2 linked regions of the Homo sapiens genome follow. The main gene of each other region encodes a partner of the protein of the gene in region 2 in a complex. Each region holds a gene or a part of one and is shown on either strand. Other genes may lie near its edges.

Region 1 (7,392 bases), on a different chromosome or scaffold from region 2:
CTCTTTTAGGCTTAGCCTGAGAACAGAATTAGCCTCATATTTTTAGGCCATTTGCCATACACATTTTCTCTCATTCTCAACTGATACGGGTGGGGGGAGATTTTCGAAAACAGTGATGTTGGTAATTTATAGTTAGTAAATAAACCATGTTTCCATATGCAAGGATTCACACCAGGGGATCCTGCCCACAGGTATCTGGAGGTCAAATTCGTATGTGCTTTCTGCCAATCTGAGCCACTGCCTCTGTGTCTCTGAGAATAATATACTCTGCAAGAAGGAAAGACGCACAAGCAATAGTGCAGTCTTCTTAGCAGGCGGAAGTCAGCACGGTGTGCCCCCTGTGTAAGGGGAGTTGCGCTAAGCAATGTGTTTGGTGATTGACAGATTCTCTGCCCCAGATTCTGGTTACCTCTGATTAGTAGATGCGGACATGGAATTAAGGGTAATTGAAGGATATTTATCGAGTCAGACATACACCTTAGAATAAGGCTTTTACTGTTCTAGAAACAATATTCCAGAAGATGAAATCATCCAGGATGCCCCAAAAATATTTATTTATACAAAGATTTTGAGAGTAATATTCATACTTGTCTTTATACCTCAGTCTATGCGTCTGGGGCCAAGTCACTGTGTGGCACATGTGCAGCTTCCCCGAATGCCTCACATGTTGTAGCACCTGCTTCCAGGAACACCAAATGAACACAGGGTCTTGGAGGGGAAGTGGGGGAAGAACCCATAATGCCCCAAGGCTGCATGGAACCACAATCCAGAAATGTGCATCCTGACCTGGAAGGCGTCTAACCAAGTGTCCAAGGGGAAATATGATCGAGGGAGAGGTGAGAGGAGGGACCCAGAGGGCAGACAGGAGAGGGTTGATTTCCACCCTTTCTTCTGCGTTCAGCATATCCAAAAGGCCCAATACAGTTGATGGGCCAGGAACTGCATGACCTGGATTTTCTCCCTGTAGTGACCCACGATGTTAATTGATGTAGAGGACAGTTTGCAAAAGTAATAGATTTGCCCTTAATCCCAGACAGTATGAGATACAATTCTGGGACTTTGTCTTCGTAACCTGTCTTTAAAAAAAAAAAAAAAATGCTTGCCTTGTATAACATAATCCAGATTCCCTAGAGCAGATGTGGTACAGCAATGAGCAAATCCAACCTCAGATCTGAAGTGTCTTCCAGTCTGGCCCTGACCCAGCCATTCTCTGCCCTTCCTTCTCCCTTTAGGGTAGCCCAAATCCCATTGCCACACAACATCTCAACTTACCATCCCTTTCCTCTATCCCCATCCCCTCTGTCTGCGTCACAGAAAGTCTGTGTGTTCTGAAGAGTTCAGCCTTCCTCTAACCAAACCCACACTTTCTTTACCACCGTGATTCTCAGAGCCAGCAAGAAAGAAATGTTCCAAAAGGAAACCTCCATCTCAGCCATTTGCCCGGAGCCGAAGGTTGTGGGCTCCAGGCCTCTCAGTGAGGTTTGTTGCTTGTGTGTTTCCCGAGGAGCGGGCAGTCAGGCAGTGGTGGTTCTCTCTCCCCTCTCTCTGTCGCACGTGGGGTCTCAGCTACATTTACAAGACTTCACCACCATGTTGGAGAGCTGCTCCACTTTGGGGGTCCTCCCAACATAGTACAGGATGGTCAGGGGCTCCAGGTCCTGGGGCACGCAGCAAGGCGAGGCAGATGCTTCAGGGTTCAGAGTGTTGTACAGTCCCAGCACCTGGGAAGGGACATGTCAGTGAGAGGTTGGAAGGCCAAGTCTCAGGCCTGGAACCCAGGAAGTCGCCCAGTTCCAGGGGCAGTCCCAGAAGCTGAGCAAGTGCTAGAATGGCCACGGGTGCTCTTTAAGAGGAACTGTTGGGGGCCGGGTGCAGTGGCTCACAGCTGTAGTCCCAGGACTTGGGAGGCAGAGGCAGGCAGATCACTTCAGGTCAGGAGTTTGAGACCAGCCTGGCCAGCATGGTGAAACCCCATCTCTACTAAAAATACAAAAAAATTAGCTGGCTGTGGTGGCAGGCGCCTGTAATCCCAGCTACTTGGGAGGCTGAGGTGGGAGGATCACCTGAATCCAGGAAGCAGAGGTTGCAGTAAGCAGAAATAGTGCCACCGCACTCCAGCCTGAGCCACAGAGTGAGTCTGTCTCAAAAAAAAGAAAAAAAAAAAAACTGTTGGAACCTGGTTTGGGTGAGTGAGTAGTTGTGTAGTTGCTGTTCATCCACAATGACAGAAGCAGAACAACTGCACTTGTTTGGGGTGATGAGTTGAAGCATATGACAGTTACTACACTGATAACGAATTATCTTGGCTTTTTTTTTTTTTTTTTTTTTTTTTTTTTGAGTCAGAGTCTCACTCTTTCACCCAGGCTGAAGTGCAGTGGTGCAATCTTGGCTCACTGCAACTTCCGCCTCCTGGGTTCAAGCGATTCTCCTGCCTCAGCCTCCCAAGTAGCTGGGATTACAAGCGCGTGCCACCACACCCGGCTAATTTTTTACATTTTTGGTAGAGACAGGGTTTCACCATGTTGGCCAGGCTGGTCTCGAACTCCTGACCTTGTGATCCACCCGCCTTGGCCTCCCAGAGTGCTGGGATTACAGGCGTGAGCCACCGTGCCCGGCCTATCTTGGCTTTTAAGAAAACACTTACATTGCTCTTCCTAGCTGGAACTGATCACTTCGGTGAGAAATGTTCTCACAAAACATTGCCTTGAGCCATTTAGTAAGTGCAGCGTGCAGGGCCCCAGACAGGATGCAGAAACAATGAGCTAGAAGGAAACATGCTTCACAAATTACTGCCCTATTTTTGATTCCCCTCAAGGGAAAGACAGACTAGTTTCAGGGGTTGTGGACTCTCGGCTATCTCACTTTCTGTTCCTAGCATTTCAAATTAGCTTCTTGTCCATCCTTGTTGTTGTCTTTCAGAGTAAGTTTTCTACATTCGAGAGGCTGGAATGATCAGAGTTCTGATAGAAGCCTTTCTACTTCAGTGTTCCTTGCCAGCCACATGCACATATCTCTGACATAGGGTAACACGTGGCAGTTAATTAATTTCTACGGTACAGAGAGCTTTGGACAAAGCAAATTAAAAAGCTGGTTGAAACTATGGTAGGAATTTAAAAGGGCAGAATGTGACTGAGTAGAACTGAGTCAGGGTGCCAAGATCAGAACCTTCACCAGAGGAATTTTACTCACCCCAGACCATCATTTGCTCACTCAACATTCAATCCTTCACTCATTCTTTTTAACAAGTGGTCTGGTCGGTCAGCCCCAGTGCCTCAGATGGCATGAGCCTGCTCCATACCGTGCTGTGGGTTGTGTCTGCACTGCGGAGGTATGGGCAAGGGCCTGAGCAGAAGTTGGCATAGTAGCCCTTAGGTTCATGGACCCACTTCCAGCCCAGATCCTGTCGGAAGTCAATGTAGAGGGGGCGCACACAGCAGTTCTCCTCCAAGTTGCTACAACAAAAAACATTTATAGAAAATCAACTTAAAACCACCAATAAAAGAAACTTCATGAATGCTCTCATATTCTCCCTTGGAGTCCTTTCATGCCATCATAGGTGGCTCTGATCAATGGAATCCCAGGTTCAAGGGCATGGGGCAGAAGAAACCAGAAAGGCACATTCATGTGTTAAAGACCAGGATCCCAAGGATGTAAGAAACAGAGATAAATGCTGCATGAGGAAGAGTAAAGAGGCAAAGGTGGCCCTGCACCCTTTTCTATCACAATACAAAGCAGTGCTATGAAGCGCTCCACATAAAACCAAGCACTGAATGTTATTAGCCAACTCAGCTTTGTTGAGGTTGGTTTTATTTTTACCCTCCTAATGTGCACCCAGACAGAAATCAATTCTAAGTTTATGCAGCTTGACTACTATAGTAGGTGACTGCTGAGACTCAATCCAAAGGCCATTTAGCCAAATAAGGCATATCCTTCTATTAGAACCGTGGTTCAACAGATCACCCAAATGTGATTATCAGGCCCCTTCAATTCTGTTGCCTACAGAGATCATTTGGCAATAATACCGCTTGCCAAGTGGACAGCTAGCCTCTGCTTTAATATCTGCTGAGACTTAGAACTTGCTACTTCCAAAGGCAGCTATTAGCCAAAATCTGGCTTCTTGTGGGTTCCAAGGGTGAACCATGGCAGACACCATTGGTTATCTATTCAATAACCATTCCTAACTCCCTTCTCCCTTGTGACATCCCATTACAGAGTCGAAAACACCAGATGCTCCTTTTCCTGTCCTCCCTTGAGAGTAGCGGTGGTCATGTGACCCAGTAATGACCCATCAGACAAGGAGAAGTATGCAGGGGGTAAGGGCAAGTTCTGGCAAAGATATTCGATTATTTATAAAAGTGACAGATGGAAGAAGAAAGCTTCTGGCTCTTCCCCTTCCCTCATTCCTTCTTGTCTTAAATGTGGACAAGGTGCCTGAAGCCCTAGCAATCACTTGTGACCATAAGGAAAAGGATGAAAAGCCAACATACTAAGCATGGCAGACTGGAAAGAGAGAAAGCCTGAGTCTTCGGTGGCATCATTAAGCAGCCAGCCCACCCTAACCCTGCTGCTACAGGCCTCTTGTGAACAAGAAATCACTATGATTAAAGTCACTGGCCAAGATCATTCGTTCCTAACTGATTCGTTCCTAACTGATAACTGATTCGTTCCTAACTGATTTGTTCCTAACTGATGGAATAAATAAATCTACATGCCAGCCTTTGTGGCAACTACCTTGCCTCTCCTATACCTTGCTGTTGAGCTGTTCCCCCAACTGAACATCCCTAGTTTCCCAAGCCCAACCATCCTCATAAGACATGGTTTCCAGATCTAAATATTTCCCAATTCGTTCTCCCCAGCTTCATTTCGGCATCCTCTGAGGCCAGATGGACTCACTCACTCATGCTCCTTCCTTTACCTGCAGTGCTTCCCCTCCTGGATCCCTTCATCCCCAAACCTCATCCTTGAAGCCTCTGCTCAAATTCCACACCCTTCTGAAGCCTTTCCTGTGTCCATAGGTGAACTCATTGCTCCCAGTTAAAGCACTTAATCCTTCGGACCCTCTCATGGGCGTGATCATCTTCTCCCTTTTAGTAGTTGGCATGCATACTTTATCCTCCCTTTATAAATGAGCAGTGAAACTGCTCCTGAGTAAGAGAAGCTGGGTCTTTTCTATCTCTCTATTGTGGCTACCCAGTAATTTCTGAATTCATTTGTTAATTTCTCTAGCTCCAACTTTCCGTTCAAATGGAGACCATTCTATTTGCCTCCATCCAGTAGCATCCTTGGACCCTTCATAGGGAACTAACTGAGCACTTCTTTAATGGAAACTCCTACATTAATCTCACACATACACTCTACAAGTGCTTAAAACATGGAAATCATGGAGAGGCTTTGACCAAGCCTCTCCAATCCAAACTATTTTAGCAACACTCCTCCTCACAGAGTTTTCCTCATTTACTTCAGCCAGCTCCTTCCAGAGTTAGCCTATGGAAAAACAGTGGGACTCCCAGGAAAACAGAAAGAGATTTCACAGAGAAAATCTCTGTGAGAGATTTTCAGTCTTCTTCCTGGAGATGTTTGTGAATAGCATCAGGGACCCTCTGTTGAGTGTGGCTTGGCTCTGGGGCCTGACCTAGCCATTGGGCAGTAGGCAGGCAGTAGATGTTGGTTCCCATGTGGGCCCAGTCTCACCGGAAGCAGTAATTGGTGTCCAAAGCCCGCTTCTTCCTCTGACCCCCCTGGCCCGGGTTGTCGAGCCGGTGTGGGGGAATCATCATGAGGATTAGATGAGGGTTGTGGTGATCCTTCTGCTTCTTGAGGCGCCCCAGATCTCCACGGCCATGGTCATCCTCATTGTCCACGCCTGAAGAAGGGAAGGAAAGTGACAATCTCCTGTCTGAAGAGAGCAGAGCCCTTGGAGGCTGCCTCCTCCACACGCCCCATCACTGCCCAGGAGGAGGGGCAGTGCAGTCTGCGAGGGAGGTGTGGGGGACAAGTGCAGCTTAATTCTGATGTCCAGGTGCAGAAAGGGGAAGAGCAGATGGAGAAGCCAGTATCAAAAGAACTCATTATTATTGTAAGGATGCCCACTGAAAGATGCCCCGTGTTCAGATCCCCATACCCTTGTATAGAAATCTTCCAAGGGGCAGAAAGCCCTTGCTGAGATTCCTAGGAATCTTCATGGACCTATGAAGCATCCCTGTTACTAAGTGGGTACCTAACACATATCTCCGGGTTGTCGGCTTGTTTATTTGTTTGTTTGTTTGTTTTGAGACAGAGTCTCGCTCTGTTGGCCAGGCTGGAGTGCAGTGGCCCCATCTTGGCTCACTGCAACCTCTGCCTCCGGGGTTCAAGAGATTCTCCTGCCTCAGCCTCCCAAGTAGCTGGGATTACAGGTGCATGCCACCATGCCCAGCTATTTTTGTATTTTTAGTAGAGACAGGGTTTCACCATGTTGGCCAGGCTGGTCTCGAACTCCTGACCTCAAGTGATCCGCCCACCTCGGCCTCCCAGAGTGCTAAGATTACAGGTGTGAGCCACTGCACCCAGCCCTGGATTGTCACTTTAGATTCTAGACTTAGAATCTTGGGGTGTGAGTTTCCTCTTAAAATGTGAATGGACCAAGATAACGCAGAAGTCCTACCAAAAATTTAAGGTGTCACAACTTAAGATAGCCTGAATGGGAGCCAAAGAAACAAGACTGTATAATTGTTAACATTCACATTGCACTTAGAGTCTTTGAAGTGTTTTCACTATAAAATTCAGATGAGATAATGAAGCATATGATAAATAGCAAATAAGCTCTGGAAAGAAAATCTAAATTCATCAACCCGTTTCATCTGAAAAAAAAGGAAAAGACTGGAGACTGACTTAGAAAGAGTCTCAACTAAATGGAGATCGATTTTGCGAAGGACAGCTGCCAACTGTTGTCCATCCTCACTGAGGACAGGAACATGAGGAATTAATTTACATAGCTACAGGAGTGGCTCGGGTCTCAGGAAGGGGCACCAGATCTGTAAGATAAATGAGAGACCTGGATCACAAATCCCTTTTTCTGAAAATCTTTATGAACAAGATAAGTATTCACTGAAATGGGAAGGTTTCATCCTAAGCTGGCCTGTAGGTAAGGACTCCAAAGGTCCTCTGGGCTCTAAGGTTCTGTGGTTACAGTGTCAAATCTTTGGCTTTAAGAAAAGGCTGTAAAATAGAGCCCATGTGGGGTAAGATCACTGTCCAGCGCTGAGCCAAAAGAGGCCTGCACCTTTTCCCAGACAAGCCTCTGACCTCAGGCGTTCCGCAGTTACCCAAAATGGGAATATGAAAGGAAAAGAGAACTTCCCTGAACTCCAGAGATCATCAAGGCTGAGTTCCTTGCAAACATAATGGAAAACC
Region 2 (7,798 bases):
AGACACTTCCTGCTACTGCTTATGCCTCCGTGTTTTCTGGCCTTGGTTAGTCGTAGTCTCCCAGCTTCCTGCTGATTCTGTGATTCTGTGGGCTCCCAATTTTCTTTCAAGAATTTCCTTTTTTTTTTTTTTTTTGAGACTGTGTGTCATTCTGTTACCCAGGCTGGAGTACAGTGATGTAATTTCAGCTCATCGCAACCTCCACCTCCAGGGTTTAAGCAATTCTCATGCCTCAGCCTCTCACATAGCTGGGGCTACATGTGTGTGCCACCATGCCAGGCTAATTTTACATTTTTAGTAGAGACGGGTTTTGCCATGTTGGCCAGGCTGGTCTCGAACTCCTGACCTCAGGTGATTCTCCTGCCTTGGCCTCCCAAAGTGCTGGGATTACAGGTGTGAGCCACCACACCCAGCCAATAGTTTCCTTTTTTACTTAGAACAGCCATAATCTGACTCTTTACTTGAAACTAGAAGTCATCACAATATGAGATAATTGAGGAGAATCAGAGCTCTGATTTCTGCCTGCTCATGAATTCCCTTGAAAAAGTGAGGTTGGTTTCTTTGCCAGTCTTTGTCTCAGTTTCCACATTTGTAAAATGGGGCTAGCTCTGTAGCATGCTTCGAGGAAAATTAATCTGTGAGATGTTCTCTCATACAGGTTTCTTCCTTTGGAGAATCTAATGGCATGCTGCTCTATTGAGTTTCCGGAAATTCCTCTAGTAAGGGATTTAATTTGACTTTAATTCAGCATTTCCCAAGCTTAATCATGGAAGTCTTGTTTCAGAAAACATTAATATCTCACAGATTGAGTCATCCATAAACTATCTTGGCAAGAGACACTGGCTCCAGCAGTTCATTTTTCTTTGAATTTGCACCTGACACTGATCTCTGTTATTAAACACTCATGAGGCCTTTAAGGAGTCTCTGTATTAACCCATTAAAGTAGGAAGTTCTTAAACTTCAGAGCATATAAAAACCATTTGAGGACCTTGGTATAATGCAGATTGCTGAGCACCATACAAGATCTACTAATTCAGAATCTCCTGGAATAGAGACAAGGAATTAGAACTCAGAATTACTCTATGGGGGATTGTGTTGTATGCAGTCTTCAGTCTACAGTATGAGAAACACTGTCTTATGTAACAATTCAGTGAAAAATACCTTCAAGCAATTTATGTACTTTATCATTAGAAGAAGCTAGAGGTCATAGTCACAATAATATATCTCACTGGTCTGACCATTAATCATCTTCTGAGATGTCTCAGGCAAGCTTATAGATAACTTGTGAATACCCACCCAAAACGTACTGAATGGCTCTGATCCCAACTTCAAAAAGATGTAACATTAAAATTCAAATGTGTCTGTAGGTGCCACTATGAGATCAATAATTTGGGCACATCTAGTTAAAGTGTGAATAGCCACAGCTGTATGTGGTGTCTTACACCTATAATCCCAGCTACACAGAAGGCTGAGGTGGGAGGATAGCTTGAGTTCAAACTTGAACCAGGAGTTCAAGGCCAGTTTGGGCAACATAGTGAGATAGCAAGATTCCATTTCTTAAAAAACAGTCTGAGTGTCTCCCTCACTCCTGCTACCTATCTATAGCTTATTCATTCTCACCATAAACTCACTTAGTGAGAAATCAAGGTTAAAGGAGTAGGGAAGAAATTTAAGTAATTTAATTTTATGACTTTTTAGTAACTCAGCTCAAAGACTCTAATGATAGGAAGCCTGGAATGAATAACTAAAATGTTATTTTTAGACTATCTGTGAATTTCATTTCCTCTCATTACCACAAATGATGAAAAATTAGCTGTCAGAAATTTCAAAGCAATATAGCAGAACATGATGGAAAAACAAATTAATCAAGTCACCATCTTCCGAAACATTTTTCCTTTATTAGAATTCTTCAGGTAATATGACGAAGATAACAATACTGCATTTCTTTAAAATATGCTGTACATTTCCTCATAGGAAAAAGGGTGAGTTATGGTGACCAGTGACATTAACTGGAAACAAGCAAACTTTTGGTTCCTGGGCCACTAGTTGTATTTACTTTAAGAAAACCCTAAAGATGATTTGCAGTCTTTCAGAGAGTTTACTTTTATGTTTACAGCCCAAAATGTGCAGATAACTTGTTTGTAAATAACTGGCAGGGGTCACAGTGTCACATCTAGGAGATTTCATTTTATTTTATTTCGACAACCAGAGTTACAGCCTCTTTACAACTGAGAAGTGGTAATAAATGGTATTGTGCTTATTCTTCAACAACTCCATAGCACTGGCACCTGACATATATTTGCATGAATTTCATGTAACAAAATGTAGAAATCTTTCTTTCTAAAGGGCTTCAAAATTTCCCGAAACAGACTTCTGAACTTCATTTTATTCCTCTTGCTACATGGTTGTTCTGGATTAGTATATATATCAACACCTAAAAACAGAGTTACAAAAATTAGTGCATACCTCATCAATTTCATAAAGTTACATCCTTTCTTGTTTGCATACATTTATATTTTATTTATTACTGTAACTGCCACTTACAACCCAGCAACAAAGAGTTGTATTTTAGAATATTATGGAATGGTGATATGATAGACACTTTAAAGTGTATTGACATGTCCTTATGGGAATTAGGGATTTAATTTTTTTTTTTTTTGATTGAAGCACTGCATGTCTCAAGGGTGGCTGCATTCAGTAGGTCTGTGACATAACCCCTGGAAAATACCCAGGCTGCCCAATGGAAGAGTCACTAATCAGATATTGAATATGATATTTTTGTGTTCAAATTTTCAAGTCCTCACACCCATCCTAACTAATTTTTAGGCCTTTCCTTTAAGACAACCAAAAAACAAAACTATAACTGTTCAAACTTGGAACTAAGGAAAGGAAATAAATATTAAAGCGGAGCTGGATTTATTTCTATTTATTTAGAGTACATCACCTCCAGTAGAATTATGTTGCTAAGGTTGGGATCACGGCTTTGGTCTCGCGAAGGGACCTGCTTTGCAGATCCAGGGCTCGTTTAATTTTCCAGCTGGGTTCCTGCTTTGCTTAACTAATCCTGTGCACCCCGTTGTGCGGTCCACACCTGAAAGGGGGAGTTTCGATGTTGTGGTTTATTAACCAGGTACTTTCCATTCACTCAGTCAACAGAAAGAAAGAGAGAGACCGCGCCTCCTACTTTTTTTTTTTTTTTTTTTTTAACTACAAATAAGGAGACGGAAACTATTAAATAAGAAGGGGGGAAACTCCCGCATATTTCACCTTGACCTGGCTGGACTGGTCTGCTGCCTCTAAGAGGCGGGTGTTGTATTAAAATGAGAGGTCAAACTCCTCGAATGGGAATCGCTCCTGCCCCTAGAGGGAAAAGAGAACCATCACCGTGTTAAACTGGAAACACTGCCTTGTTTCCAATGCGGGGGACTGAGTTCCCTCCCTCGACTTAGCGTGGTAATGACAGGACCCGAGGAGGCGCGCTGCTTCCGGGCAGTTGCCCAGCATAACACCCGCACCCTACTTGCACCTAAATTTCTGAGCTGCAAGCAGGCAGAAGTGCCTTCCACTTTCTCTCCTTAGCTCCCCTCTCCCCGCTTTGCTGCTGTCTGTAACTTTTTGTTCCGTTTACTGGGAAGGTGACGCTTAAGATCAAAAGACCCACTGTAACTTGCAAAAGCCCAGAGCCACCACCAGACGCTGGGGAAAAACAGGGCTGTCCAGTCCAGGGTTAAGGTTTTGAGCAGAGAAGGAGCAGCGAGAAATCTCGGCCAGTCGCTCCGGGAACAGCCCCTGCAGACTGGTCCAACTCTCCAAAGGCTAGGGACACCGGGGCAGCCTTGTGGTGGGGTAGAGGACGAGCTCCTAACTGCAAGCAAAGTGCTGAGTAGAGGGCGTTGGGGGCAGGGGAGGTCCCTTGACTCCACTTTGTATGCAGCAGCTGCGGGGCAGTGAGTATCTCCGAACAAAGCGGCGAGCAGCGCGGGGGTGAGAGATTGGGGTTTGCTCGCAGCTGCCGCTGGCGCTGAGCGAGTCTCCCACCACCCCCGCGAGCGTTGGGGTGCAAGGATTCGGGGGAGGAGGGAGAAGGGAACGAGGCGTGCCATTCCTGTTGCGCGGCTACGCTTCAGGAGTTCTTGTGAACGATGGGAATGGCAACTATCAGAGCCAAGGGGGAAAAGAAAGAGCTGGAGTGAGCAAAACAAAGAGCGAGTGTGGGCCGCGGTGACTTCATGCCTCACCAATGTCCCGCCCACGCTGCTCCGAGCTGTTACTGCTGCTCCTGCCCGGGCTGCAGCCGCGCCTGCGGGCAGCCGAGGCGAGGCGCTCCGGTAGCGTGGGGAGGTTTCCTAGCAACTCTCTGCCCTGAGTGCACCCGGCTACCCGCAGGTCTGGAGCCCCCCGGGGGGCCAGAGCAGGACCACCCCTCTCCCGCCCATCGCCGGCCTCGCCTCTCTCGCATCCTAGCCGTGTGCACCCCAGAGCGCGCCAGCAACTCGGGCTCTGGACTGCGGGACGCCTGAGCCGCGCACTGAGGCGAAAAGGACAAGGGCACGCAGCCCCCGCCCCGCGAAGCCGGGCTCCGGCACCTCGCGGAACCTCCCCTCCTGCGCTCGCAGCCGCAGGCCCCACTCCCCGCCAGGGAGGGAGCGGCGATGCCTCGCTCTGTGCCTGCGGGTGTCGGCGGGTGCTTCTAGGGCGCTCCCAGAGCCGCCTCCCCCTGTTGCTGGCATCCCGAGCTTCCTCCCTTGCCAGCCAGGACGCTGCCGACTTGTCTTTGCCCGCTGCTCCGCAGACGGGGCTGCAAAGCTGCAACTAATGGTGTTGGCCTCCCTGCCCACCTGTGGAAGCAACTGCGCTGATTGATGCGCCACAGACTTTTTTCCCCTCGACCTCGCCGGCGTCCCCTCCCACAGATCCAGCATCACCCAGTGAATGTACATTAGGGTGGTTTCCCCCCCAGCTTCGGGCTTTGTTTGGGTTTGATTGTGTTTGGCTCTTCGCTAAGCTGATTTATGCAGCAGAAGCCCCACCGGCTGGAGAGAAACAAAAGCTCTTTTCTTTGTCCCGGAGCAGGCTGCGGAGCCCTTGCAGAGCCCTCTCTCCAGTCGCCGCCGGGGCCCTTGGCCGTCGAAGGAGGTGCTTCTCGCGGAGACCGCGGGACCCGCCGTGCCGAGCCGGGAGGGCCGCAGGGGCCCTGAGATGCCGAGCGGTGCCCGGGCCCGCTTACCTGCACCGCTTGCTCCGAGCCGCGGGGTCCGCCTGCTAGGCCTGCGGAAAACGTCCTAGCGACACTCGGCCCGCGGGCCCCGAGGTGCGCCCGGGAGGCGCGAGCCCGCGTCCGGAAGGCAGTCAGGCGGCGGGCGCGGGGCGGGCTGTTTTGCATTATGTGCGGCTCGGCCCTGGCTTTTTTTACCGCTGCATTTGTCTGCCTGCAAAACGACCGGCGAGGTCCCGCCTCGTTCCTCTGGGCAGCCTGGGTGTTTTCACTTGTTCTTGGACTGGGCCAAGGTGGTAAGTTGTTTTGTTTTGTTTTGTTTTCTTCTCTTCCCCAAAGGTCTTGGGCTGGCACGAAGAGCTGCCCGGCCAGAGCATCCCGGCCAGGTAAGTTGCGGTCATCAGAGAACTTCAAGGGGGCGGGTGCGGGGCAGCGTCCTCCAGCACAGATGGCCTAGAGGCCAGGTGTCAAGCATTTCTGCCCTGGAGCGACAGCAAGGACTAATTATCAGAGGAGACACTCTGTGTTACTCCTAGGTGTTGAGGAAGCCCTAATAGAAAGGAATTTTGGAAAAGAGGGTGTCCTGTTTACAGAAGTCATTTAGGGGCCCTGGTCCATTCTTAAGGGCATCGTCTGTACACAATGTTCTCCCTATCTTTCTAACATTTGGGTCCACTAAGGACTAACTTGCCTTTAACTCGAGGCTGTAGATAAGTTGGTTATAATGGGAGTAGTCTTCAATTTTTGAGTCCAGAAAAAGACAGCATACAAGTTTCTGCTATCATTAGTGCTCAATCTGAATGAATTACCCACACTGGAGGGATATTAATGCTTTAAGTCATCATCCTTTCGGCTTAAAAAAAAAAAATACTATCTAATTGATCCCTCACTGAGATCAATCTCTGAGACAGAGAAGCAGAAAGAACTCTGAACCAGGATTAACAGCTTTCTGTCCAGGCAAACCATTTGTGTAAGAGCTACCTTAATGTGGAGAGGTTAACTCTTTACGAAATGCATTGTCCTCATCTGTAAAACGAGGTTTATTAATAATACCTGCCTTCTCTAAATCACAAAGGAAAGTTCAAGTCAAATAGCATATGAGAAGGTGTTTTAGGACTTTTGATTTATGAAACAAAATCAAATGTAAGGTGGTATACCAGATTGGATTGTTGGAAAATTACACAACTAAGTAATAGGACGAATCATGAGTTTAGGATGAGTTCTTAATGGTTTTCAATATAGGCCCAACATTTATTTTTGCTAATGCAGTGACTCTTGTCATACTTTCTTTTTTTTTTTTTTTAATTTCACTTTTTCTCTGTTTGGTCACCAAGTCCTTAAATTATATTAGAGCCTTTCTCTGACCTCTTGGGCTCAAGGAGAGTTTAATTAATAGTTGTAATTGTTTTGTAGGTTAAAATTTACTCCTATACTTTAAAGTGTCAAGGTTTTGCCTGAAGCTAATTAAAACAGTCAAATCATAACCTTATAAGTAGGTTTTATATATATAGATATAGAGATATATGGAAACATCCAGCTATCTTTAGGAAATTGTTGCATATACAGTTTTCTAATATTTGTTTCAGGGAGATTTGCTCAGTTATCTGAAATGGAGAAATTAGAGTAAATCTCTTTATCTTGTGGTTATTTTTTGGCTTGTTTGTTGATTTCAAAATAGTGAAAAGGCAAAGGAAAAAGTAACATTCATTATCAGTTATCTCTTAAATGGAAGAAACATGCATTTGTTGCAGCAAATTTTCCGCTAAGCATAATTTCATCCTGTTTCAATAAGTAATAAAGTGCTTTTCTAGATTTAGTAAACACACATACACACTAGTAAAATGACCAAAATTTGTGTTAACACAGTATATTTTGTTCCCAACGTACAGGCAAAGGAAAAAGTCCTACTTGCCTCTAAAATTTACTATTTAAAGTACATTTTTAAAAACCATTAACTGTGCTTATAAACATTAGTCAGGCTCTTGTGAAAAAGCATTGCATTTCTACCCAGTGTCTAAAACTGATTTGAAGGAAATATTATGAATGGGCCTACTTGCACCTGCAGACCTGAAAAGGGAATGCTTATCTGAAATCAGAACAAGGCATCCTTTTCCCAGTCTCTGTCAATATACAAAGGTTTCTGATGTATACTGATTTGCATGGCAGTTAAAAACATGCAAAAAATGTAAATTATAGCCAGTATAACTCAGAAAATTAGAGATCAGCATAAACTGCTGTACTTTTGTGATATAGCTACAAGTCTCAAATTATATGTCTTTACAGTGCAAATTAGATGCTTAAAGCAGAATAGAAATTTAGGTATCAGTTACAATGGAAATCTTGTTTCCTTGCTCAGTAGTTTACACCAGGAGAATGTTGAGGGCAATAAAGCCATACAAAAGAGACCAGAAGCTGCATAAGACCAGCATAACTTTGGGTTTAATTTTTAAAGCAGAATTTATAGGTCTCGAACATATAGTGGACTTTTAATAACAAATATATAGTGAGCAGTGGGGGATGTTATTAATCAAATCCAAAGATTTCTGATGTAGCAAAAATTATAGCAGTTTGTTTTTTAACTGT

Evidence for each region. Proteins that work in one complex are often made in the same cells at the same time.
Region 1: the proteins of ITGB8 (region 2) and TGFB3 are in contact, whole or in part, in a cryo-EM structure (PDB 8VS6), measured with the Homo sapiens proteins. Residues at the interface, in NP_002205.1 of Homo sapiens: Ser156, Ala157, Ser158, Asn161, Arg206, Gln210, Cys211, Tyr214, Leu216, Ser247, Gly248, Asn249, Ile250, Asp251, Thr252, Glu254; in NP_001316868.1 of Homo sapiens: Gly262, Asp263, Leu264, Arg266, Leu267, Lys268.

Annotation. Positions count from the first base shown.
Region 1 is NC_000014.9:75,957,625-75,965,016, forward strand, and holds the end of TGFB3 (transforming growth factor beta-3 proprotein isoform 1 preproprotein), read right to left. Parts: intron 5,864-7,392; coding exon 5,692-5,863; coding exon of another isoform or gene 5,688-5,691; exon of another isoform or gene 5,437-5,687; intron 3,453-5,436; coding exon 3,299-3,452; intron 1,722-3,298; coding exon 1,563-1,721; 3' UTR 473-1,562; downstream 1-472. UniProt on the Homo sapiens protein: Transforming growth factor beta-3 proprotein: Precursor of the Latency-associated peptide (LAP) and Transforming growth factor beta-3 (TGF-beta-3) chains, which constitute the regulatory and active subunit of TGF-beta-3, respectively.
Region 2 is NC_000007.14:20,326,423-20,334,220, forward strand, and holds the start of ITGB8 (integrin beta-8 precursor), read left to right. Parts: upstream 1-4,477; 5' UTR 4,478-5,384; coding exon 5,385-5,511; intron 5,512-5,554; coding exon of another isoform or gene 5,555-5,601; intron 5,602-7,798. UniProt on the Homo sapiens protein: Integrin alpha-V:beta-8 (ITGAV:ITGB8) is a receptor for fibronectin. It recognizes the sequence R-G-D in its ligands.